Linked DNA regions of Homo sapiens. The protein of the gene in region 1 interacts with the protein of each later gene in a pairwise test. Each region holds a gene or a part of one and is shown in the gene's direction. Other genes may lie near its edges. The genes, in order: CLDN5, TMEM128, SLC35B4 and VAMP5.

Evidence for each region.
Region 2: the proteins of CLDN5 (region 1) and TMEM128 interact in binary tests that used the Homo sapiens proteins (3 or more experiments, as listed by UniProt).
Region 3: the proteins of CLDN5 (region 1) and SLC35B4 interact in binary tests that used the Homo sapiens proteins (3 or more experiments, as listed by UniProt).
Region 4: the proteins of CLDN5 (region 1) and VAMP5 interact in binary tests that used the Homo sapiens proteins (3 or more experiments, as listed by UniProt).

The regions. Positions count from the first base shown.
Region 1 is NC_000022.11:19,522,497-19,528,545, reverse strand, and holds CLDN5 (claudin-5), read left to right. Parts: upstream 1-4,290; coding exon 4,291-4,947; 3' UTR 4,948-5,519; downstream 5,520-6,049. UniProt on the Homo sapiens protein: Plays a major role in tight junction-specific obliteration of the intercellular space.
Region 2 is NC_000004.12:4,238,215-4,245,244, reverse strand, and holds part of TMEM128 (transmembrane protein 128), read left to right. Parts: intron 1-4,765; coding exon 4,766-4,924; intron 4,925-7,030.
Region 3 is NC_000007.14:134,292,931-134,299,960, reverse strand, and holds part of SLC35B4 (nucleotide sugar transporter SLC35B4), read left to right. Parts: intron 1-362; coding exon 363-438; intron 439-3,494; coding exon 3,495-3,570; coding exon of another isoform or gene 3,571-3,649; exon of another isoform or gene 3,650-4,881; coding exon 4,882-5,128; 3' UTR 5,129-7,030. UniProt on the Homo sapiens protein: Antiporter that transports nucleotide sugars across the endoplasmic reticulum (ER) membrane in exchange for another nucleotide sugar.
Region 4 is NC_000002.12:85,587,423-85,593,928, forward strand, and holds the end of VAMP5 (vesicle-associated membrane protein 5), read left to right. Parts: intron 1-4,302; coding exon 4,303-4,440; intron 4,441-5,525; coding exon 5,526-5,735; 3' UTR 5,736-5,984; downstream 5,985-6,506. UniProt on the Homo sapiens protein: May participate in trafficking events that are associated with myogenesis, such as myoblast fusion and/or GLUT4 trafficking.

The DNA.
Region 1 (6,049 bases):
AGTATTTTTAGTAGAGACGGGGTTTCACCGTGTTGGACAGGCTGGTCTCAAACTCCTGACCTCAAGTGATCCGCCCACCTCGGCCTCCTGAATGGAATTACAGGCGTGAGCCACTGCGCTTGGCCTGGCTTGCCATTCTATAGAACCCTTGACCCTTCGTGGATCACACCAGAGCTCCCTGCCCCCCACTCCCTCACCCGCTGGGGAAGTTAAAGCCACAGTGACCTCCAATTCTGACTAACAGCCAGCGATGACTACCCTGAGGGGTGCGGCTGAGGTTGGATGAGCTGTGAAGGCCCTGGGAGCCTGGGTGGATGGCACTCAGGAAAGGCAGAAGAGAACCGGGACTGGCATCGGCCTCCCCTGCAGCCTCGCAGCCTCCACCATTGGGGGGCTTCGTTACCAGTGAGGAACTAAGGCAGAGAGGCCACCTCACTAGTCCAGAAAGTTTCTTGCTTGCGGGAGCGAATCTGACTCCATGCCTGTGTTTAACCACAAAGAGTAACAACAATGCCCGCAAAACCGCCGAGTCTGGCACTGTCCACTCTGGATGCTGCTCACATCGTCACAGCCGCCCAGGGGCCCCACACAGGGTGCCTCGGGCACCTGGTGCAGTGGTCAGGGATGCAGGAGGACCCCAGCTGCTGCTCTCGGCCTGCAGGAGTACTGGCTTGTGTCAAGAAAGAGCACCAGGCCACACTGTGCTTGGAGGCTCTGCAAACATTTGCGGAAATAGAAGGACACATCCTTAACTGTTTCAAAACTGAAAGATAGAAGAAACGCTGTTCTTCACTTCCCCTGAAATCAAATCTGTTAACTAGGAGTTTCCCAAACCCAAATCCCCAGGAATCTTGAGCCTAAATTTAGCTTATCCTTGGAAGGTCACGGGATTACCCTGGGGCAGGGTCAGCCAGCAGCTGCTCAAGATAAACTTGGCTTTTCTGCAGACTCAGGCTCTTCTCACACACAATTAATGAGATCCTGCCATTCTTCCCCTGGGAAAGCAGAACAATGGCTGGGGGTGAGCAGGTGGCCTTGGCCAGTGCTCTGCCCCAAGGGCCCTTTACCAGAGATCAGGGGTTTGTGTCCCTGCCTAACCAGGACACCTCCGATCTCCACCTGCAGGCCCTGGACCACTGTGGCACTGTGGACACAAGGCCGCTTCTGCCCCTTGGACGCCGAGCCCCTTCCCACCTCTGGGATCTTGCACTGGCTATTGCTTCTGCTCTGCCTGGAACTTCTTCCCCGGATCCCTGTGAAATGTCACCTCTTCAGAGAGGCCTTCACCACTGTCTTTCCTGCCCAGTTCTTGGTTGATAGGTTCCTGTCAGCTCCTTCTGGGCAGGAGCTTCTTGTGCTGTGTGCTCTGCCTAGAGACAGTGCTTGCCACGAAGTAGGTGAGCAGACCCTCCATGAGTGGCAGGAAAGGTGGGTGCACCCTCATGCCCCTCCGGAGTCTGGCCTGGGCTACTCAGAGGCCAGCCTCCATCTGAGGTGGGTTTGTCTGGGGTGGCGTCAGCCCCTGCGGCCCTCTCTGGGCCTCTCTGCATTGGCATTGTTCCACTGCAGCCTGGGGCCTCGACCAACATAGTGGGGTCAGGGTAGAAACCAGATTGTGAAAGGTGAAGCCTGAGACTCCTCTGCCACGTCCCTGAGATGCTGTGAGGCTGCCGCCAAAGAAACATGAGCTTGCTGGGGCCACCCTAGGGTGACAGCTAGGAGAGAAGAAAAACAGGCAGCCAGGTGAGAAGGGAGAGCCTTGGGCTGGCTGCAGCTCCAAGCTGGCTAGAGGGCAACAGGCAGCCTCCTGTGCAGGACAGACGCATGAAGACAGCCACCCTGTGGAGGTTATTCCTGGATACTAGGTGGGAAAGTCGGCAAGCAAAAGGACAGGTCCAGCTCAAGCTTCTAAAAGCAATGCTGGGGGACGGTGCAGCAAGGTGTTCCTGGAAATGACCTCGGCAACACATCTTAGAAGATGAGCAGGACCCAACCTGACAGATACACGCTGCGGGCAGAAGAGGCCAAGGTAAGAGACGGCCCATGTGAGGCCCATAGGCAGGTAAGTCTCCTGGGGCAGAGTGTGTGCTCAGGGCCGCACCAAGACTGGTGGCTGGACTGGCCAGTCCTAGCGCATGCAGGTACACATCAATCCAGCTGCTCTGGGAGTCGGCTCTTCGTCCATGGGCAATGTGAGCCATGGAGGGTCTTAGGTAGGGTGAGGCCCAGGAGAGGGGCCTGGTGGGGTGGGTGGCCTAGCTGGGCAAGGGCAGGTCCCTGATGACCTGAGGAGGCCGCAGCAGTCATCCCAGGAAGATGGTGGCATGGAAGGGCTGGGAGTAGGGGGATCTGGGGAAGTTCCCTGGGCTTGGGTTAGGGGGTAGTAAGAGTGAGAGGGTGGGTGGGTCAGCTGTACCCCTGGAGTACACAGAGGAGGAGATGTCCAGGAGGGTCTGTAGAGGAAGGGGCATGGCCCATGGGTCTGCAGCAGGAGGAAGGCAGTGACTAAAGTGATAGCTGGGAGAAGGCAGTGGTCCTCAGAGCCATACCTGGTGGGGAGAGGCCACGTGGGGCTGAGCAAAGAGGGTATGATTTCCTTCCAGCCTCAGGGCTGGGCACACTTGCCTTCAGAACCTCCCCACACTAGGTGAGCCAGACGCTGGCCTTATCTCATTTACCATCTCAGAGCCATCTGAAGGGGGAGAAGGGAACCGGGCCCCAGGAGGGAGAAAGTCATCAAACCTCCCACATCTGTGACCAGCCTCAGTGCCATACTTTTTCTATGGAGGGCCCTGTCCAATGGAACTGAGCACAGACCAGATAAAAGAACTGGGCACCCAGTGGCCTCAGTCCAGGGCCTGGAGTTCAAACTTTACTGGAAACAAAGGGGCCGAGAGAGACTGGGGAAAGAACTACTAGAAAGGGGCTGGTGCCCCCATGGGGCTGTGGGTTTTGGAGCCGCGTGCCCCCACCTGAGCCTCAGGGGGCCCGGAGTGTCCACACCAGTGGACCTTTCGAGAAATGGCTGGGCCATTGTGCAGAAGAATGCCCGGAAATCCCGCGCCTCCCTCCTCCAGCAAGGATGGGGGCTCTTCCTCCTGGCCAGGAAACTCCAAGTTGGCTTCCGGAGGGTGGCCTGGGGGCTGGGGTGCCAGGGACACCATCGCCACTGGTGGGAGGGCAGGGCACAGCCCCTCCGTGTCCCTTTGTCTCTCCTGTCTGAAGGCCAGAGCAGGCTGCTAGGCCTGGGGCCACCACTGCCCCTGGGTGCTACACCCAGTGTGCTGGGTCACTGGGAACTTCCTGAAGTGGTGTCACCTGAACTGGGCCCCCAAGGATGGGGTGCGGGCAGTACCGCAGGAAGAGGAGCAGCCCCTGTGAAGATTGAGAGGTCTGGGAAGCCCCTGCGGCTTGGGAGAGTGGGGGTCGCCAGGCAGGGGGAAAGCCCCTGTGCCACCGCTTTTTGCCAGAGACTCAGGCTCCAGAGAGGCAGTGAGTGGCATGGGGGGTGAGGCTGGGGCCCTGGGCCTGACCTCCACACGCCTGCCTGGCCTCTCTGTTTGCCATGGGATGAGAGAGACAGTGCTGGGACTCAGAGCGGGGCTGGAGAGTGAGAGTGCGAGAAAGGGCCTGGGTGGGGCTTGGACCCCGGGGCGGGCTTTCTGGAGAGCCCCCCTACGAGGGCCTCTACGGCGGTGACGGGGTGGGGGGCTTCTGCAAACCTTGGTCAGGGAAGTGGAGCTGGCTCGAGTGGAAGAGACCACCCGGCTCAGTCGGGGATGTGGGAGTGGACTGGGTGGTGCAGACTGGGGGTCGAGCGCCTTCTGAAGTGACGGGGCCGGGACGCGCAGGGAGGCGGCCCAAGAAGCGCGCCCTAGGCCAGCCCAGAATGCGCTCGGCCGCGACTAGGACAACGGCGGGTGGGGCTGGGGGCGGCTGCCGGGCGGGGAGCGGTCCCGCGCCCTCAGCTACCCCTCAAGAGCCGTTGTTTCCCTAACTTCAGCTGCCAGAGGCTCTGTGATTGGCTGCGGCACGATGACCCGCGCACGGATTGGCTGCTTCGGGCCGGGGGGCCGGGCCCGGGGGACAGAATCCGCCCCCGAACCTTCAAAGAGGGTACCCCCCGGCAGGAGCTGGCAGACCCAGGAGGTGCGACAGACCCGCGGGGCAAACGGACTGGGGCCAAGAGCCGGGAGCGCGGGCGCAAAGGCACCAGGGCCCGCCCAGGGCGCCGCGCAGCACGGCCTTGGGGGTTCTGCGGGCCTTCGGGTGCGCGTCTCGCCTCTAGCCATGGGGTCCGCAGCGTTGGAGATCCTGGGCCTGGTGCTGTGCCTGGTGGGCTGGGGGGGTCTGATCCTGGCGTGCGGGCTGCCCATGTGGCAGGTGACCGCCTTCCTGGACCACAACATCGTGACGGCGCAGACCACCTGGAAGGGGCTGTGGATGTCGTGCGTGGTGCAGAGCACCGGGCACATGCAGTGCAAAGTGTACGACTCGGTGCTGGCTCTGAGCACCGAGGTGCAGGCGGCGCGGGCGCTCACCGTGAGCGCCGTGCTGCTGGCGTTCGTTGCGCTCTTCGTGACCCTGGCGGGCGCGCAGTGCACCACCTGCGTGGCCCCGGGCCCGGCCAAGGCGCGTGTGGCCCTCACGGGAGGCGTGCTCTACCTGTTTTGCGGGCTGCTGGCGCTCGTGCCACTCTGCTGGTTCGCCAACATTGTCGTCCGCGAGTTTTACGACCCGTCTGTGCCCGTGTCGCAGAAGTACGAGCTGGGCGCAGCGCTGTACATCGGCTGGGCGGCCACCGCGCTGCTCATGGTAGGCGGCTGCCTCTTGTGCTGCGGCGCCTGGGTCTGCACCGGCCGTCCCGACCTCAGCTTCCCCGTGAAGTACTCAGCGCCGCGGCGGCCCACGGCCACCGGCGACTACGACAAGAAGAACTACGTCTGAGGGCGCTGGGCACGGCCGGGCCCCTCCTGCCAGCCACGCCTGCGAGGCGTTGGATAAGCCTGGGGAGCCCCGCATGGACCGCGGCTTCCGCCGGGTAGCGCGGCGCGCAGGCTCCTCGGAACGTCCGGCTCTGCGCCCCGACGCGGCTCCTGGATCCGCTCCTGCCTGCGCCCGCAGCTGACCTTCTCCTGCCACTAGCCCGGCCCTGCCCTTAACAGACGGAATGAAGTTTCCTTTTCTGTGCGCGGCGCTGTTTCCATAGGCAGAGCGGGTGTCAGACTGAGGATTTCGCTTCCCCTCCAAGACGCTGGGGGTCTTGGCTGCTGCCTTACTTCCCAGAGGCTCCTGCTGACTTCGGAGGGGCGGATGCAGAGCCCAGGGCCCCCACCGGAAGATGTGTACAGCTGGTCTTTACTCCATCGGCAGGGCCCGAGCCCAGGGACCAGTGACTTGGCCTGGACCTCCCGGTCTCACTCCAGCATCTCCCCAGGCAAGGCTTGTGGGCACCGGAGCTTGAGAGAGGGCGGGAGTGGGAAGGCTAAGAATCTGCTTAGTAAATGGTTTGAACTCTCTCCCACCTGTGTCCTGTTCTCTGTCCAGCCATCTTCCGTGTCCAGCAGCCCCATTCATCACCCACCAGCCCCGCCCTCCCAAGGACTCCTGTGGAGACCTCCTCCCAGGGCTGGAGGCTGGGGCTCTTTTCCCCATCCTCCCTGCCACCTTCCCACCAGGTGGGAGACACAGCCACCACTTACTACAGCCCAGAAAGGCGGGATCTGCGGTCAGAAGAGCTGCTGCGTCATGGGGCCCTGGGGCCCGGGATGGGACAGGGGCGGGGGCAGCGGCAGACCCCAGCAGAAGATGCGGGGTGAAGCGCCCTCAACACAGGCTGGTGAGTGGGGGTCCTGCGGTGTGGGAAGTGCTGGGGGTGAGCAGCCAGGCCGCTGGCTTCTCCCAGAAAGGGCCAAGCCCCACACAGCACAGGGTGAGGTTTTCCACTGCCCTCTCAGGGCTTGCCTAGTCCCAAGCCCCATCAAGTGGCCACAGAGGTCTGTAGAATCCCCGACCAGGCCCTTTCCAATGGTGGGTGGGGCAGGAACAG
Region 2 (7,030 bases), on another chromosome or scaffold:
TCCTAGGGTCCTTACTGCACATTGGAGAGTGATGTGGAGACCCTTGGATAAGAAATGGAAGGGAGAGGTATGTTGGTGAGCATCATGGCATTGGGAGGGCTGGTGTGCTTAGGGTCAAGAGTAATAATTTGGAAGTACCAGTGGGGGTAGGAAGATGCAGACAGGACTGTGGTCCCCTCGTATCATGGCAGGACACATGATTTCTCCTCAAGGGCCTTCAGGAGGAGCAGTGACTTCTGGCGGAGGAGACTGTCGAGCCACAAGGAAAAAGCCCACAGGGGAAAGTAGGCAGAGGGGAGTTTATTTAAACTGTCCTCTACTTTCTAGGGGAGAAACTTTCCCTAAACACTCCCATCTTCTGCCCCTCCATGTCACTCACTCCTTTGTGGGAGGTGGCGTGACTGATTGAGTGTGTGATGAAGAACTGGACAAAGGTAGCTCAGCACCTTCTTCTGCTGCAAGTCGGCTGCCCATAGGAAGCGCAGAGTCTGGTCTGCCTTCCCATGGTGTCATTCCACAGGGGCAGTCCCCACAGGAAAAGGTCTCTAGGTTTTCATTTTGACCTGGAACCCAGTGGGTAAGGCTGTTTCTGGGTGTCAGAGACCCAGTATTAGGAAGTGCTTTGTCATCACTCACCAAAGCCATATTCTTCCCACGGCTGCATCAGTATAACAGACATTTAATCTTCATCAGCTTGACTCAGTCATCTCTCTTAGAACTTGGGCTGGGAAAAGAGGGATGGATACTTTATTTTTATTTTTATTTTGAGACAGGGTCTCGCTGCACTCTGTCACCCAGGCTGGAGTGTAGTGGTGCGATCATGGCTTGCTGCCTTGACTTCCCAGGCTCAAGTGATCCTCCCACCTCAGCCTCCCAAGTAGCTAGGACTATAGGCGCACACCACCATGCCTGGCTAATTTGGTTTATTTTTTGTAGAGACGAGGTCTCTTCATGTTGCCCAGGCTGGTCTCAAACTTGTGGGCTCCAGTGATCCTCCCACCTTGACTTCCTAAAGTACTGCGATTACAGGTGTGAGCCACTGCACCTGGCTGGAGGGGATGGGTACTTTAACCACCACCAATAGCAGCTGCTCTTTCCTTCATCAGATACTTTATGGAGGCTGAGATGTGTTTGGCTGTCAGTGCCAAACACGTGGAAGGTGCATTTCTAGCTCTCCAACAGCTCATTCTAGGCTGCAGCAGACAAGTTACCAGGCCGCATGGTATGTGCTTTGTAAGTGTAGGCGCAGGGTATCATGGGAGCATCTAGGAGGGATATCTAGTCCAGGTCAGCCTCAGGACTGAGACCTTTTTGAGGTTTTAGGAGATGTGAGAGAACTTCTGTATTTGTGTCCTTATATTGGGTATTTTTAGTAGTTTAGAGAAATGGCAGAGTAAGAAATGATCACACATAAGATATTTGGGGGCAACTGCAGTGAAGTGGAGTGCCCAGGACCACATAACTGCTGTGTGGCAAAGCCGGGACGCAGACACTGGGACCAGGGCTGTGGGGGTTGGAAAGAAAGTAGAAGTCATAGATCTGTCCTCAACAAGGTGTCATCTTAGAGAGAAAAAGGCAGAAATGCATTCTCAAAGGCTGAGGATTTTGAGTCGCATTGTTTTCTTGGGAAGGACTCATTAAGGGGAGTTGGGGGGTATTGAACAGCCATGAAATGAGAGGGCTGCACAAAAGACAGTGCCGGCTGAGTTCTGCTTTTGGAAAATGGCTAAAATGGCTCGTTCTTCTGACGCCTGAGGTGATTTCTTTTTCCTCTGGCTCTAGCCTAAGTTTAGAAGCTTGAGGCCTTAAGGTTCTTTATATTGTTCAAAGATGGGAGAGCAGGTCCATATTAAAAACAAAACAGGCCAGGCGCGGTGGCTCACGCCTGTAATCCCAGCGCTTTGGGAGGCCGAGGCGGGCGGATCACGAGGTCAGGAGATCGAGACCATCCTGGCTAACGCGGTGAAACCCCGTCTCTACTAAAAATACAAAAAACAATTAGCTGGGCATGGTGGCGGGCGCCTGTAGTCCCAGCTACTTGGGAGGCTGAGGCAGAAGAATGGCGTGAACCCAGCAGGTGGAGATTGCAGTGAGCCGAGATCGCGCCACTGCACTCCAGCCTGGGCGACAGAGCGAGACTCCGTCTTAAAAAAATTAAATAAGTAAATAAATAATAACAAAACAACACTGTGATGCTTTAGAAATCACAGTTTAAAATACTCGGCTTGTGTGCATCAAAATCAACAGTGGAGTTAAAGACAGAAAGTAAAATTAAAATCCTAGATGCTCAGGCCCAGAATTTTGGAAACTGGGGACTAGGTAGTTTCTCTTAGAAAGGTGCAAGGTGACTGTGATATAAAGCCAGGGCCGAGGACCACTGACTGATAGTATTATATTTTGTTCAGGCAGTTTAAAAAATTTTCTTAGGCCGGGCATGGTGGCTCATGCCTGTAATCCGAGCACTTTGGGAGGCCAAGGTGGATGGATCACCTGAGGTCAGGAGTTCAAGACCATCCTGGCCAACATGGTGAGACCCCATCTCTACTAAAAATACAAAAATTAGCTGGGTGTGGTGTTGGGCACCTGTAATATCAGCTGCTCAGGAGGCTGAGGCAGGAGGATAGCTTGAACCTGGGAAGTGGAGGTTGCAGTGAGCCGAGATCGTGCCATTGCACTCCAGCCTGGGCAACAACAGCGAGACTCCGTCTCAAAAAAAAAAAATTTTTTTTTTCTCATATCCACATGTTGGCAAAGGAAAAAAATGTCTAAAAAGACTCCTTAGGGGTAATGATAAAAGGCCTTTTTAGACATTTTTTTCCTAATCATTCCTGTGGAATGTGGAATTAGATAAACTATATCATTTATATACTGCATGCATATCTATGCTTTATACATACAATTAGAGCCATATTTTTTTCTTCACTTTGGGGGCGATACTCCCCCCAGTGAGATTGCATGCTCTAGCAGAAGAGAGGTCTTTGAAGACTCCTAAAGATGAACATGGACATTTTTTCCTCATAGATATAACTTGAGTGATGGCTGGGCATGGTGGCTGACCCCTATAATCCCAGCACTTTGGAAGGCTGAGACAGGTGGATCACTTGAGGTCAGGAATTCGAGACCAGCCTGGCCAATATGGACATGGTGAAACCCCATCTCTACTAAAAATACAAAAATTAGCTGGGCGTGGTGGCCAGTGCCTGTAATTCCAGCTACTTGGGAGGCTGAGGCAGGAGAATTGGTGAACCTGGGAGGCGGAGGTTGCAGTGAGCTGAGATTGCAGCACTGCACTCCAGCCTGGGCAACAGAGCAAGACTCCGGCTCAGAAATAAATGAATGAAAATAAAAATAACTTGAGTGGAATAATAATGATTATGATTGAGAGTCAGCTGTGAGGAGCACTTTGCTGACCACTTGATTTAATTCTCACAGCTATTCTGAGTTAAGTACTGTCAATATTTCTGAAACACACGGAGGTTAGGTAATTTGCCTAGAGTCACAAAACTAGTCTTGCTCAAGTTAAGATTCAAACCCATACAGACAGATTTCAGAGGCTGTGCTCTTAACCCCTTCCCTCTACAGCCTCTCATGACTCCGAATCTCAGAATTGCATCATCGTAAAAAGCCTTCATGGAATCCGGAACCTTGCCATTATTGGAAGTTCACTTTGTGCCTTTGTAACTTATCTGTTGTAGCCATCTGTTCTCCCTCTCTCTTCCACATGGATTGTCAGGCTTTTCCCATAGAGAAGCAGATGATGATGGGATATTGGATTGAGTTGGGAGAATGGGAAAGGCATTTCAGTCCCCAAGTCCAGCTGGGGTGGAGGGAAGGGGTTGTCCAGGTTGCCTCACTCTTGCTGAATCAGGTCACAGGTGGAATTGGAAGGGAGTAAAAAGGCATTGGCATTGAGGGTGAGGTGGTGAGTAGAAGATATTTTGAAAATGGGAGGATTTCATTTAGAAATCTTTTATGAGAGAAAATTTGAATTATTGATCTTCCTAATTGTCTTTCAGTATTCCAAGAAAGTCCACTTAACTTGGAGGAATGAAGTTTCCCACTGATAAACTTCTTTAATCCTGTCACACTCAAAACTTCAGAAACAACCAGAAAGCCACTATCTTCCTTGTATTTTTGTTTTTATTTATTTTATTTTTTGAGACAGAGTTTCACTCTTGTTGCCCAGGCACTCCAGGCTGGAGTGCAATGGCGCCATCTCAGCTCATTGCAATCTCTGCCTCCTGGGTTCAGGCGATTCTCCTGCCTCATCCTCCCAAGAAGATTGGATTACAGGCTTGCGCCACCACGCCTGGCTAATTTTGTATTTTTAGTAGAGACAGGATTTCTCCGTGTTGGTCAGGCTGGTCTCGAACTCCTGACCTCAGGTGATCCACCTGCCTCGGCCTTCCAAAGTGTTGGGATTATAGGCATGAGCCACTGCGCCCGGCCTCTTCCTTGTATTTTTAAAGAAAATGCATTGTCATGACCAGAATTTTCCCTTGGTTGGTTGGCTGATGAGAGTGTATATATAAATGCATGTATTTCAAGTCTTACTTTTCATTCTTTCCTGAGTTGTGTATCTCTTTTTCTCACCCCCATCTCCCATAGATTGAGACTTTCTGAAAGCATGGATTGTTTAAGTATGGCTCCCTCTGCAACACTTGATATTCTTAGAAGCAGATTTTTAAGCTATTAGTAAAAACTTTTAAGATATGTGACGATTCATTAAGTGCTGTCAGACCTCTTACTGTTTTTATCTCCACAGCTGGTTTCTCTGTGGCAGTGCCTTGTTGCTTGTCAGTTTATCAATTGCATTTTACTGCATAGTCTACCTGGAATGGTATTGTGGAATTGGAGAATATGATGTCAAGTATCCAGCCTTGATACCCATTACCACTGCCTCCTTTATTGCAGCAGGAATTTGGTAAGTTAACTTTGAAATGACTAACAGGAATGAACAACAAATTTTTTTTTTGATCAGATAGTGATATGCTTGGTCCAAACTTCGAAAGAAAAAAAGTTAAAACAGAAAAATAGTCTCCTGGTCATTCATGCTCTCTGGTTCCCTTTTGATTAGTATCTCTTTCTCCTTCTATTTATGGATCTAGTTATTTAAAGCACAGATGGTGACATTCTGTACATATTCTGCATTTTGCTTTTTAAATCTATTTTATTATGACATACAGTACATATAGAAAAGTGAAAAAAACTGAGATGAATGAATTAGTGAATGAATTCTCATGAAGTGAGCATTGGTGTAAACTGAGCCAGCACACTGGGAACCCCCTTCATTCTCCCTCCCAGTTACTACACCTTCCCTCCTGCCACAGGTAAATACTGCCCTGACCTTCATGGTAACTACTTGCTTTGCTTCCATTAGATATTCTATTTTTGTTTCAGCTACGCTTTTGAACTTTATAGAAATGGATTTGTACAGGGTGTATTCCTTCACATTGAGCTGGCTGTGTGCAGCATTGTGTGCAGTTCTTTCATATTGTCGCCGGGAACAGTGACTCATCTTCATTGCTCTTTAGCATTCCATTGTTTAATTGAATCCCAGTTTTCTTTTCCCTTGTTGATTGTGTTTAGATTTTTTTCAGTTTGGGGTTACTATGAAGGATGCTATAAAGAGCATTCTTGTACATGGCTCTTGTAGCACAGTGAACACATTTCTGTTGGGTGTAGAGATGTATGTATATATGTATATATATGTACCCCAAGGGGTAAAATTGTTGGATGTACGTACCTTTGACTTCAGTAAATCATGCCAAACTGCTTTCCAAAGTGGTTGTTTGTCCTTTTCTCCTTTTGTTTTTCAGTGGATCCTTATAGTTTGGGATTCTTCCATAATGGTACATATAGATGTGTCTCATTTTTTTAAACAGTTGCATAGTTTTCACAGCATGGACATAACATGATTTATTTAACCTGTCTTCTGTTGTTGGACTTCGTTATATTTATACCCAAACAATGCCACAATGAATAACCTTCTTCATAAGTTAATTAAATACTCAATGAAAAATACAGGGTTTTTTGGGTTTATAAAAGTAATACTTGCTCACTGAGGAAAAAAAATCTGTAAATTACATGAAAACACAAAGGAAATATATCCTATGATTCAACCAGAAAGAAAACTACTTTTCCTATGTTGTGTGCAGCTCTCTAGTTTTTTCTTTCTTTATATCAATTGGATTTTTTTTTCTTTTTGGAGATAGGGTCTCACTGTGTCACCCAGGCCGGAGTGCAGTGGCATGATCACAGCTCACTGCAGCCTCGACTTCCCAGGCTTAAGTGATCCTCCTGCCTCACTCAGCCTCCCGAGTAGTTGGGACCACAGGCATGTGTCACCACATCTGGCTATTTTTTGTATTTTTTGTAGAGATGGGGTTTCGCTGTGCTGCTCAGGCAGGTCTCAAACTCCTGGCCTCAAGCCATCTGCTTGTGTTGGCCTCCCAAAGTGCTGGATTACAGGCGTGCGCCACCACCCCCGGCCTAATTGAATTTTTATTTTGGAAGAACCATATACCTTTATACATATTCTTTCTATGACTTATTTTCTGTAGTTGAAGTTCAAGGTTGTTTGACAGTGTGATGTGGTTATTGTTAACCTGTATGTGGGGGCATGCAGATACGTTGTTTTACTTTTTCCCATGAGGGTAAGATCATGTCCAGAAATGTTAATTTTTTAGACAGTGTGATTTGTGATTATAGTTATTTAATACTCATACTTATCAAACTATTATATATTAAAACCAATAACCATCTGAACTTATTTGAATATAGTTTTCCCTATTCTGTTCTTAGAAATTTCAGTCATTAAAAATCTTTATACTTAGTGTTTTAATTTTACTTTGATGACAGGAATAGTGTTTTTCTCAATGAAAGATATAATAGCAGCTTATAAGTGATAACTGTTTTCATTCTGTTTTTAAGAGACAATATTTTGGTCTTTTTTACCATGATAGTTTAGTGTGTGATGTCATAAAAATGGGCTGTAGCCATTTAAATTATTGTTGAAGTCAGAAACTAA
Region 3 (7,030 bases), on another chromosome or scaffold:
CACGATCAATCAAAGCAAATTAAATTGTGTCTGCATATTTAGCAAATCCTTTTGTGCAGAAAGACTATATGTTTAAATTTCTCCATTCCCTGTTGTTGAGGAAAGGATGCTGGCTCCATTGTTTGCTTTGTCTGTGATGGCCCTCAGACCCTATAAGGGCAAGAACCATAATTTGGGGGTTAATATCCTGCCATACAAGGTGAAGTGGTCAAGAAGCACTGTATACATTTAACTTAAGTCTAACTTGCTTTTCTTTGTATTGCTGTCAAACAACCTGTACGACTTTTAATCATTGTAAAGCTACTCTAATTATTCTATAATGTTTTTGCACTTACATTTATCTGACCTGTTTCTTTCCATAGCACGCCCTTCCACTTCCGGGTTTCGTCTTCTTGGCTTCTGATATTTATGACCATGCAGTTCTATTCAATAAGTCTGGTGAGTTTGGGGTTAGACAGTAGAATTACCTGACAGTTTCTGAGGCAGAGTCTCAGTTTTACTCTTGACTTGACCTCGGCCTTTTTCATAATCCTATTCAAATCATGTGTTCCTTTCGAAAATGTCTCCATTCCACTTTCCAGTCATTGCAGCAGCAAAAGCTTTTACAGGGGTTTCTCAATTATTTACAAATGAAGTAAAAGAATATCTTCGAGTTTTCCATTTTGCTTTGGAATTTGTGTGTTTGCATTTGAATGTGAAATGTTTGATGTTTTGAGAATGCAAATGAATACTTACAGCACACTGCAGAGACTGGAGCCCTGCGAAGTTGGGCAGCCGTCCAGCTCTCTCAACTGCTGTTTATCCTTCTCTGCCATGAAAGGCAGAGCTGCTCACAGATCCAGCCCAAGCTGCCATGGAGCAGAGCAAGAGGGGAGCTCAATGATGACAAGGTTTTTCTCCTAGTTACAGATGAGACAGGCAGCAGATGAATAAGCAAAATTAGTTTCAAGCGTCTAGTGTAAGTTAGCTGTTACTTTTTAAACTGGCCAGTTAATAAATTAGCTATAGATTGTCAGTTAACTTGAAAGGGATCACTTGTATGATCTGATTATCTACTAACAGAGTATAATATAGACACATTGAACACACAAGGAACAAATAAACGTTTTTAAAATCAAGGCTTTATGTTGCACACACCTCAAATGCTTAAGTGCATTTTGTAGAATGACAGTAGGTGCTCAGTAAACATTTGTTTGCTATCTGAGCATGAGTTGTGAAGTTATGACTATTCTCTGCATTTATAGTGTTGCCTCTCCCATTTGCCCCATCCCCCAAAAAATGTGAAGGTAGTGTGTAAGAGTTTGTAAGGCTCTGAATTACTCAAATAATCATTTCTTCATATTAACACAACAGTTTTTAAGATCTCTGAGAAGTCCCACGTAGCAAAGGGCTATTGAAATAAAAATGTTGTCAAATTCCATGTGATTGATTTAGTTGTTAGAATGCTGCTTCTAAAAATCACAGGGCTAGGTATTTATGATAAAATGTTTTACAGAATCTGCCTTCAACTTCTCCAGAATCATTTCCAAGTTAAAGATACATTTTCCTTCTCTTGCTTTCCTTGAGATTAAGTTTCTGAGATCCGTGAATTTTCCAAGAGAGCTAAATATCTGTCAAAATATTTTAAGTGATATTCATTGTCTCTTTCCTTCAGAGATTCAGTGTATCTCTGAAGTTATTAAAAAGTAATCACGTTTGTTAACTTCCTTTTCATTTCAATACTTGCTAAGGATATCAAAGATAATAGAATACCAGATTATTGGCATTGCCCACTGATCCAGAACTAAGTTTCAAAAATTAGTCTTTATGTGTATGCGTGTGTATGTATATATGAGACATTTTATTCGTGAAAGAAAATTAATATTTCTTACCAGATCTCAGCATCATTGTATCAGAATTTCTTAAATTATGCTGTATAATTCAAAACCTGAAAAAAATTTAGTAATACAAAAAAACTGAGCCATTGAGGATTTCTATGTCTGTATTCTCTTTCATCTTATTTCCTCCCACAAATTTACTGTGCAAGTGTCATTATATAAAGCTAACATAAGAGTGAGAGTGTGTGTGTGTATGTGTCTTTTAATAGAGACAGGACCTCCCTGTTGCCCAGAATGGTAGATTGGTCTCGAGCTCCTGGGCCCAAGGGATCCTCCTGCCTTGGCCTCCCAAAGTGCTAGGATTACAGGCGTGAGCCACTACTCCTGGCCTAAAACTAATGTAAGAATATATTTAAAGTTATTCACAGTTCCATCAACCTGGACATCTGCCAATTTTATTTTTATTGATTTTCTTCTAGACCATGTCTGTTTACAGAGATTCTTACATAGCTGTAATCCTTGTGTGGATATAATTTTATATTTGTTTTTTACTTTTTTTCTGAGTTTTTTTTATGTGGCTATAAAATCTCTATGATTTTTGTTTTTATCAAATGTACAATGCCTCCTCTAATGAAAGTGCCTTTGTTTATGTAGCCATTGCACCATCATTGGGCATTTGATTTTGATTCAGAGTTATTCTTTATTATGTATAGTACTTTAATGAGTGCAGAACCTTTTTCTTCCTTTGAATTAAACTAGGATTAATTCTGAAGGATGGGTAGGAATACTTTTATAGACCCTTAATAAGGATTATGAAATTGATTTTTTTAAAGAATGACGCCAAGTTATACTGCCACCAACCTGTGGCTGCCAGTTCCATTACCAACTTGCCAGATTAAGATATTATTTATACATTTTGAATTGGCTAGGCGCAGTGGCTCAAGCCTGTAGTCCCAGCATTTTGGGAGGCCAAGGCAGGCGAATCACTTGAAGTCAGGAGTTCAAGACCAGCCTGGCCAACATGGCGAAACCCCGTCTCTACTAAAAATACAAAAATGAGCCAGGTGTGGTGGTGTGTGCCTGTAGTCCCAGCTACTTGGGAGGCTGAGGCACAAGAACCACTTGAACCTGGGAGGCAGAGGTTGCAGTAAGCTGAGATCATGCCACTGCACTCCAGCCTGGATGACAGAGTGAGACTCTGTCTCAAAAATAAATTAATAAGTTTTGAATTGCTAATTTTGTAGCTATAAAATGGTACAGTCTTATTTACTTTGGAATTCTGTAATTACTAGTGTGATTGAACATACTTCCAAACAGTAGTTGCTAGCCGCCTTTCCTCTTGTGTTGAGTTGTTAAGGCTGTCTATATCATTTTATCATTTTCAACTTTTCTGTGCTTCACAGTCTTTCTTTGTAAAGTGAGGTACTATTCAGGCAAATGGTAAAACACTTCCTTAAAAATTAAAACTATTATTTGTTTTAAGAAACCAATTTAATGACTTTAGTGGCTGCTATAGCCTGGAGTCAAGGCAAGTAAAGTGATGCGTGATCCAATTCTATTTGCAAGGAAGACAATGTTGCTGTTCCTATTATGTTCAGTCTGTATTACCCTGTTCAAAAGATGAAAAATTCAGCTGTGAAAAAGCAATATGGCTATATCCTCTTGTAACCTCTACAGAGTTATATGAAATTCCCGTCATCGGAGTGACCCTGCCCATCATGTGGTTCTACCTCCTCATGAACATCATCACTCAGTATCCTTTGGACTGTGCCGTCACCCTTATGTCATCATCAGGTTCTTTTGGCACAGGAATGGTCATTCTTTTCTTCTAACAGTGTGTTGACTTGAATATGATTTTCGCTGGATTTATTCTGCGGTAAGCTGGAGACAGAGACCAATTCAGGGAACTCCTTGTAGAGGGCAGAAGAGATGCTAGTGGTGTAGTAGGTCAGTAAGGCACAGGGCAGCAGGAGGAAGTGCTCTGAGTGGAAGTGTAGGAGTCCATTGATTGATAGTGGCGGGTGTGGTGGCTCACGCCTGTAATCCCAGCACTTTAGGAGGCCGAGGCGGGCAGATCACTTGAGGTCAGGAGTTTGAGACCAGCCTGGCCAACATGGTGAAACCCCCTCTCTACAAAAATACAAAAGTAAGCCAGGCATGATGATGGGTGCCTATAATCCCAGCTACTCCATAGGCTGAGGCAGGAGAATCGCTTGAACCCAAGAGGTGGAGGTTGCAGTGAGCTGAGATCATGCCATTGCACTCCAGCCTGGACAACAGAGTGAGACTCCATCTCAAAAAACAAACAAAGAACTACTGTATAGCATAAATCATCTGTGATTTGTACCTGTGATTTTTTGGTGTCCTAAGATATTTCCAGTGATCACAAGCTGCTGCAAAGTCCTGAAAGAAATTTCAAATTACCAGCTACTTAGGAGGCTGAGGTGGGAGGATCGCTCAAGCCCAGGAGATCGAGGCTGCAGTGAGCTTGATCACTCCACTGCACTCTAGCTTGAGTAACAGAACAAGACCCTGTCTCAAAAAAAAAAAGAAATTTCAAAGTAATCAAGTTTTCGTTTTTTAAAATGGTTATTTCGAATGACCTTACTTTCATTATAAAAATAATTATGTCTTTGAAATAGTGAAACGAATCGAGATTGACCTCATTCCTCTGAAGTCAGCTCCTAGATTTGCCAGAGTCCCTTTCTGGAGGAGGGGATAGAAGGGCTGGAGGCAAGATAAATAAAGGTGAATGGGATCACCCTTACCGAGAGCGTCACCCTCTGTCATTATCTTGGAGGTGCCTGTCATTGTAACCATAGGAAGACTCCAACATAAGAATAATTGGGGGTTTTTTGGCGGTTTCAAATTGGTACCCATAAATGGAATGGCAGGACAGGAGTTGTTCTGCAGGTTCTCCCCAGGAGGAGCCTCAGAGCTGCCGTAGCGGACCTTCATGTTTTCTTAGAATATGAGAAGTTAAACCAGGGACCATGCCAGAAGGTTCTCTCACTGATCCCCCAAGTACAGTCTACAGAAAACTACCTTGACTCCACTCCTCCAGGTACGTGTGCATCCGGGGTGTGTTTATCCTCACCACAGAATGCGCCTCCCTCACCGTCACGCTCGTCGTGACCCTACGCAAATTTGTGAGCCTCATCTTTTCCATCTTGTACTTCCAGAACCCCTTCACCCTGTGGCACTGGCTGGGCACCTTGTTTGTCTTCATTGGGACCTTAATGTACACAGAGGTGTGGAACAACCTAGGGACCACAAAAAGTGAGCCTCAGAAGGACAGCAAGAAGAACTGAGGCCTGTCTGGAGTACGTAGACCAGTGTCGTCGTGAGGGTGGGACCCTGTGAAGGTCTGACCACCGTTTCGCTTTTGTTAATGCCGAGCTACCCGCAGTGCTGAGCCAGCCGTGCAAAAGGAAATCTTCAGGAGGGGACTTCTCACGTTGCTCAGACTGACACATGTAGACTAAATAGAAACCCCTCAGCCCTAAAATAGAAAAAAGAACAGTTCTGGACTATTGAACAGCCCATTCATTTATTTCTGTTTTGTTTACCGACATATTCAGTATTATTCTTGTTTTCTGAATTCTGAGTCTCCTGAACAAAAGGCTTACTATCCATGGTCTTGGAAAAGATTGTCCCTTCTCTTGCTGTTGTAATGCATCTCTGCTACAGCAGTCATTGTCATCCTGTGACCTTATCCCTTTTGTCTCCCATCACCTTTTCCTTCTTCAGCAGCACCTCACAGTCAGTCAGACGCTGCAGGCACCACTATCACCAGGAGTGGCCAAGTAAACCGAGACACCAGTAACAGCAGGGCTGGACTTCCTCCAGCGTTTTGGGAAGGAAAGAGATGTTCCCCTGAGCTGATTCCCAGTGACAGTGCAGCAAGACTAGTGGGACTCCTCTTTCCCACATTTTGCTTTTTTTTTTTTCTATGCAAAAGTCAGATGCTTCTATCCATTGCTTTCTGTGATTAGGGCGGCCCTGCAGCATATCTCACAGCAGACACAGTGTTCATAACAAAGAAAGGTTGTGCCGGGCACGGTGGCTCACACCTGTAATCCCAGCCCTTTGGGAGGCTGAGGTGGGTGTATCACTTGAGGTCAGGAGTTCAAGACCAATCTGGCCAACATGGTGAAACCCCATCTCTACTAAAAATACGAAAATTAGCTGGGTGTGATGGCGCATGCCTGTAATCCCAGCTACTTGGGAGGCTGAGGCAGGAGAATCACTTGAACCCGGGAGATGAAGGTTGCAGTGAGCTGAGGTCGTGCTACTGCACTCCCGCCTGGGTGACAGAGTGAGACTCTATCTCAAAAAAAAAAAAAAAAAAGAAAGGTTGTTATGGACTGGACACCCCTGAAGCCCATTGCCTAGGCCACAGTGGTGACGGCAGGATGGCCCTGCTCAGCACCGCAAGAGCCATGGCTGTCCCTGTTGGCCCAGCCGGGCACTCACAGGGCAGAAGGGTGGGTCTCAAGTGGGAGGATAAGGCTTCACCACCAGGAGATTCCCCTCTGCCCGATGACTCTGTTAAGAGTCACGACCCATCAAGGGAATGCATAGATGGAGATATATAGTGTGTGATGTGTAAATCAGGTCAAACCTCAACGACAATTGAAAGTTGTTATTGTCCTATGAGGTATCTTAGCATTCTCGATGGGTATTGAGGATGGTTGGATGTGCTTTATTGTGTGTGGAAACATGCCTCTCTTTGCTAATCATTTCAGAGGTCCAGTTTTCCTTTCACTGGACAATCTTGAATAGGAGGAACGCTGTTGCTGTAATATGCGTAGCTTCTGTGTGCTCTTGTGTAGTCTGTGTGTGATCAAAGGGCACGGAAGTGGCTGCACTTTCACATCCCTTTTCTTTACTTAGCTGGAACCTTACATACCAGTACATGCTCCTCTGTAAGCAGCTGAACTCACCGGCCACTTCTCTGTTTGCCTATAGACAAAGACTGTGTGTGTGTGTGTGTATGTATGTGTGTGTGTGTGGTGCACACATTGTGTTCTTAAACTGAGACGTGGCTCTGCAGGTCTCCTGGGCTCATTCCATGGTGTGGTATGTTTATTCCACTGTCCAGAGCTATTCTCTGATGGATTTGAGCAACAGCAGTGGAGATAAATGTCCTAGAGTCACCAGGTCGCTTGGAGAAGTCATTTAAGCTGCCTCGGGTTTTTGTTACTTAAAAT
Region 4 (6,506 bases), on another chromosome or scaffold:
TTTGTATTTTTAGTAGAGACAGGGCTTCACCATATTGGCCAGACTGGTCTCAGACTCCTGACCTTGTGATCCACCTGCCTCGGCCTCCCAAAGTGCTGGGATTACAGGCGTGAGCCACCACACCTGGCCATATTGTACAATTCTTGAGATCTGACTGCTAAAAAAAAAAAAAGGAGCTAGGGAAATGTGGGCCACATCAATATAATAGCTCTTATTTATTGAGCATTTAGTATGTGTCAGGCGTTGTGCTAAGCTTTTGATTTACAATAAGTCACATAATCCTTAGCTAACATTATTATCAGCACTTTACAGAAGAGGAAGTGGAGGTCAGAAAGGTCATATCCTCAGTCTCAGTCACTCAGCTGGTGAGTGGCAGAAGCAGGATTTCAACAGACGGGTGCAAAGCAGAGCCCTGCTCCTAGTCTCTGAGCTGAGTGCCGACTTAGGGAGGCAATGTTATACCGGTACTTGCGCCCATTCATCTGACGACAGTTAGAACAGTTTCTTGGATACTAGACAGGAGATGGGGAGACAAGGAGAGTTAGGATAGGGAGGTTTTTTTGTTTTTGTTTCTTTGTTTTTTCTTGAGACAGGGTCTCACTCCTTTGCCCAGGCTGGAGTGCAGTGCGCAATCTTGGCTCACTGCAGCCTCTGCCTCCTAGGTTCAAGCAATTCTCCTGCCTCAGCCTCCCGAGTAGCTGGGACTATGGGCAGGCACCACTTTGCCTGGCTAATTTATGTATTTCTTGGTAGAGGCATGATCTGCCCACCTTGGCCTCCCAAAGTCCAGGGATTACAGGCATGAGCCACCGTGCCTGGCCCAGATGGTGTGGTTTTGAGAACTGCGTTTTCATAGGAGGAATCAAAGAGATTGAGCCCAGAAAAACCTGAGAGGTTTGAGTGTCATAGAGGGGATATTCTGTACAGGGGGCAACAGTCTGTCAAGAACATTTCCTGTGTAACTGCCACTCTCTGGCAATTACACAACTGCTCCCCTCTCGCCCTGGCTCAAAATTCCAAGCCCTGCAGGCTTCTGGCCTCAGGTCTCAGAAATGCCTGTCTCACCCTTCTTCCTTTCTCCACGCTCTGCTTGTCACCCCTCTCCCGCCTGGTGGCCATCTCCTGGCAGTCTTGCTGATGGTACTTCTCCACCCCTCTGGCTGGCCTCTCTGCCATTTTCTTACTTCTATCTGTGCCTGTCTACCACCAATAGAGAAATTATCCTGAAGCACTTCTTCACTGTCACCCGTGGCTCAAAAACCACACTAGCTCTTAAGTTTTATCAGTCGCTTGGAGCCAGTCTTCTCTACCTGACCTTTTCTGCCTTCTGTCCTGCCCCATCCCTCCCATCCTCTGCCTGGTCCTCACTGTCAGGGTGTATCCCTATCTCTCAGTGCAAGAATGTCCCTGCTCCATGTCATCCTTCAAGGGGTCACCCGCCCCCACCATGGCACCCTCTCTGTGGCAGCTCTGATACTTACTATCTGTATCGCACAGTGTAACTCTTTACTCTTCTCTAATTGTATTACATGTGTCTTTTCCCCAGGGCAAAGTGGTCTCTTTAAGAATAGGCACAATTAGGCCAGGCATGATGGCTCATGCCTATAATCCCAGCACTTTGGGAAGCTGAGGTGGGAGGACTGCTTGAGCCCAGGAGTTCAAGACCATCCTGGGCAACATAGCAAGACCCCATCTTTAAAAATATAGGCACCATTTATTCAGGAACTGTTTATCACATCTCTGCTGTCTGCAGACATTATGCTGAGTGACAGTGTGGCGTAAGGCAGTATGGCCCTTGTCCTCTTGCTTACCTCCTTCCAGGGTCCCTGGAGCTTTATTTCTCACAGTGCCAGCAGAGACCTGTGTATATAGTCAGTGTCCTTTTTCCTCTGGTTGAGTGGGGGCCAAGGAGGGCCCGAGACTTGAGTCTAAGGCCTCTGTGTTCCCTGGAGCGAATGTGTTCTTTTAGGCCTGGGTCCATCTTGGCTCCAGGCAGGCCTGGCTTCGCATTGGGGGAGACTGGTCCAGATTACAGCTGGAAGCACAGCCAGCTCTTTGGAGAATGTGACCCAAATATCACCCCTTGTTGAAAAATAAGGTAACAACAGCTGTAGCATTTAGAATAGAAAATAAAAAGATAATATCCAGCATTTTCCCAGTCTCTAGCAGTGACTCTTATTTTCGAGTATTTATCCATTCTCAAGTTTTTGCTTTGGACTATTTAATTTTGTTTTTTGTTTTGTTTTGTTTGCTGAGATGGAGTCTTGCTCTGTTGCCCAGGCTGGAGTGCAGTGGTGTGATCTCGGCTCACTGCAACCTCCGCCACCCAGGTTCAAGCGATTCTCCCATCTCAGCCTCCCAAGTAGCTGGGATTACAGGCATGCACCACCATGCCTGGCTAATTTTTGTATTTTTAGTAGAGACAGGGTTTCACCATGTTGGCCAGGCTGGTCTCGAACTCCTGGCCTCAAGTGATCTGCCTGCCTGGGGCTCCCAAAGTGCTGGGATTACAGGTGTGAGCCACTGCGCCCAGCCTGCCTTGGAGTATTTGAATGTGGGGAAGTTCAAAGGATTGAATGATGGAGCCTTGTTGAATGCTATAGTAGTAATAATAGTGATGACGGTTGACTCAGGAAAAGGTGAGAGTGCAGTTTCCCTGCTCTCTTCGTTGTTCCTCTGTGTTTCCTGCTTACTGCTTCCTCCAGCCTGTGAGCGCAGCCTCCCCTACAGTGGTTTGCCTGACCTCTCTTGAAGCAGGTTGCTTTTCTAGCTCATGGGTAAATATTGACCTATTTGGGTTTCAAATGCCTGCCCCTCGAAACTCATGCAGGGCTAGAAAAACATGCTGGGAGAACATCTCTTGAGAATAAGAATTGCTTTTGGTTAGGCTGTATCGTAATTGGCCCACTCACTGATTCCTTGCTTGCAATGGTCAGCACTGTGCTGGCCTCCCGGTGGGATGGTGGTGGACAAAGGCAGGGCACTGCTCCCTGCCCTCCCTCTGGGAGTTTGTGGTCCAGCTGGGGAGATAGGACTCATACAGTGGGAATTCTTGGAGGCTGTATACCAAGCAGCTGCAAGGATCCTGAAGGAGGATTCTTGGCTGAGTGGGAGGTAGCCCTCTGTGACCACCAGATCTCTTCTAACACTTAAGTTTTCTGGTTTTAAGTGGAATTCAGTCAAGTGCCAAAATGTCTGTTGTAGACAATGGGTGACGTGGGCTGGCAGGAAAAGAAGCTTGCCCTTCTTGTAAGGAGGGGAAGGGAACAGGGATGGGCTGTGGGGAAGTAGGCTAAGAGGAAGGAGTTTCTGTGGTTTGCTAATCCACTGGTATTCATCTCCCTGAAATGTCCCTGCTCCTAGGCTTCTGGCTTATACCAGGGCCTCCTGCCTGGTGTCTCTCTCTGTTACGTGCACCCAAAGCCCAGTGCCTTTCTTGCACATGACCCAGACTTTCTCTCTCCCCTGTCATTTCAACCTTCCCCAGCTTGGATCCAAGACCTCCCTTCCCAGTCCTCTGAAATGAGCTGGTGTTTTCTGTTAGGCAAAGCTGCCCCCCAGGCTGGGAAATCCAAGAGTTAGTCTCATCTCTGTAAGTTGGACCCCAGTGAGGACCCCAGCTGAGTGGAAGGCTGGAGGCCAAAAACCGGTACCACTGAGGTTCCCAGACGGAGAGGGAAGTTGGAGCAGTGATATAGGGAGCAGGATCAGGCCAGGAGGCAGAACTGGCCTGACCAGTCAGAGGCCCAAAGAGGAAGATCTGAGCTTCTCAGTTTGGGGATAGAGGGGTTAGGCAGAGACTATGATGTGTGCTGCTTCAAAATTACCTTTCTAGCCTGTAGGGTAGGTCTCCTCCCTGTGTGTTCCAGCCAGGTAGCTTGGTTACCCATTCTTTGCTGCCTTCTTAGGCCAGTGGGAAACCTTAGGGCAGCTGTGCATTGATTGGGTAGACGCCATTCTGGAGCAGGTGAGAAAAGAATCAGCTTTGTGGGAGGGTGGGGTCCTGGGAAGATCCCACCTTGGGACAGCTTAGAGGAAGCTGAGGTGCTGGAAGCCGGGACTTACCTAGGTCCTAGGCCCTGCCTTGACGTGCAAGGGGAGGAGCCTGTGAGACTTAAGGTGTGCCGCACTCACCCCGAAGGCCAGACCTTCACTCCGCACACATCATACCCTTACACGAAGGATGCTGTTACTCTCATGCTGTACCCACCTACAGGGGGAGAAGGAGGCTTCTAGATCTCAGGGGCAGATGAGGGCCAGGTGGGGGCCTCATGCAGCCCTGACCTCGGGCTTGGTGTCCAGGCAGGAATAGAGTTGGAGCGGTGCCAGCAGCAGGCGAACGAGGTGACGGAAATTATGCGTAACAACTTCGGCAAGGTCCTGGAGCGTGGTGTGAAGCTGGCCGAACTGCAGCAGCGTTCAGACCAACTCCTGGATATGGTGTGAGGCCTGGGGGAGCATGGAGGGGAGGGGAGAGGATTGGGAAAGTCTCTCTTGGGCTGTATTCAGGATCTCCAGTTCCTTGGTGGGGTTGAGGCCTTCTTGAGGGCCAGTGTGGGGCCTCTGGGTTTCCTCAGGCACCCATAGCCTAGACATGCAACAGATAGACCCCACAAGATAAGAAGGCCTTGGTTTGAAGCTGTGGACCTTCTTAAAGGTAGAAAACTGGTATCGTTTTTTGTTTCTTTTTTACTTTGAGACAGAGTCTCACTCTGTCGCCCAGGCTAGTACAGTGGCACAATCATATTTGCTGCAGCCTCTACCTCCCAGGCTTAAGTGATCCTCCTGCCTCAGCCTCCTGAAGAGCTAGGACTACAAGCCTGCACCACCATGCCTGTCTAATTTTTGATTTTTTGTAGAGATGAGGTCTCACCATGTTGCCCAGGCTGGTCTTGAACTCCTGGATCCAAGAGATCCTCCCACCTTGGCTTTCCAATGTGCTGGGATTACAGGCATGAGCCACTGTGTCCAGCCTGAGTACTGGCATTGTTAACTGAGGGTGAGACACTAGGGCTGAAAGTCAAGGGCCACACCGGTGTTTGAGATGAGTCAGGCTGGGAGGGTTCCACGGCAGGTGGTATAGAAAGAGAGCAGACAAGGCCGGGCGCGGTGTCTCACGCCTGTAATCCCAACACTTTGGGAGGCCGAGGTGGGCAGATCACAAGGTCAGGAGTTCAAGACTATCCTAGCCAGTATGGTGAAACCCCATCTCAACTAAAAATACAAAAATTAGCCGGGCGCAGTGGTGTGCACCTGTAGTCCCAGCTACTAGGGAGGCTGAGACAGGAGAATTGCTTGAACCCGGGAGGCAGAGGTTGCAGTGAGCTGAGATTGTGCCACTGTACTCCAGCCTGGGTGACAGGGAGAGACTCCTTCTCAAAAAAAAAAAAAAAAGAAAGAAAGTAGACAAGATGGGGAGGATGCAGGAGGAGACTAAGCCTTACTGAGATGGGGTTGGGAGGAGCTGGCTCCCAGGCCAAGAGGGTGCCAGCTAACTCCCACTTTGTGTCTGGGGGTATCCGCAGAGCTCAACCTTCAACAAGACTACACAGAACCTGGCCCAGAAGAAGTGCTGGGAGAACATCCGTTACCGGATCTGCGTGGGGCTGGTGGTGGTTGGTGTCCTGCTCATCATCCTGATTGTGCTGCTGGTCGTCTTTCTCCCTCAGAGCAGTGACAGCAGTAGTGCCCCACGGACCCAGGATGCAGGCATTGCCTCAGGGCCTGGGAACTGACCCAGCTGGTCCTGAAGGAGAAGCCAAATGGCTGCACTGGCCGATTCTGGTCTCCAGAGGACCTTGGTGTTTGCTCTCCCTTGACCCACCCCAGTGAGTGCCAAAGGGCAGCCCCAACATGTGCACCCCTGCATTTCCTGTCATGCCACAGACTGGCCCTTGAGGGCAGCCTGCTGTACTGGCCATGCTGGGCCAGCCCCACCTGGAGCTCAGTAAAAACTGCTGTTTGATTAAAAGCTGGTATCTGTGTGTGAAGGTCCCCAGGTTGGTTAATCCCATCTGTCTCTACCCCTAGGGCTGCTTAAAAAGCCCATCACCCAAAGGACTCCACCCCTGGGAGATGGCTCCTTCCTCTCCCTTCCCTACTTGATCCAGCCCGACACAGACAGGGAGTGTGGATGCAAGAACACAATGGCCCCCAAAGCAGACCCTTGAACCAGTCCTCCCCATCTGAGCCTGTTTCTCTGAGAATGAAATCTATTATTTTTCTGTCATCTTGGGGATGCTTAGAGGACCAATGAGACTGTAGATGCGATGACAAAGAAGAAAGCACTTCACCAATTTTTTTTTTTTTTTTTTGAGACAGAGTTTTTGCTCTGTTGCTCAGGCTGGAGTGCAATGGCACTATCTCAGCTCACTGCAAACTCCACCTCCTGGGTTCAAGCAATTCTCCTGCCTCAGCCTCCCAAGTAGCTGGGATTACAGGTGCCCACCATCACACCTGGCTAATTTTTGTATTTTTAGTAGAGACAAGGTTTCACCATGTTGGCC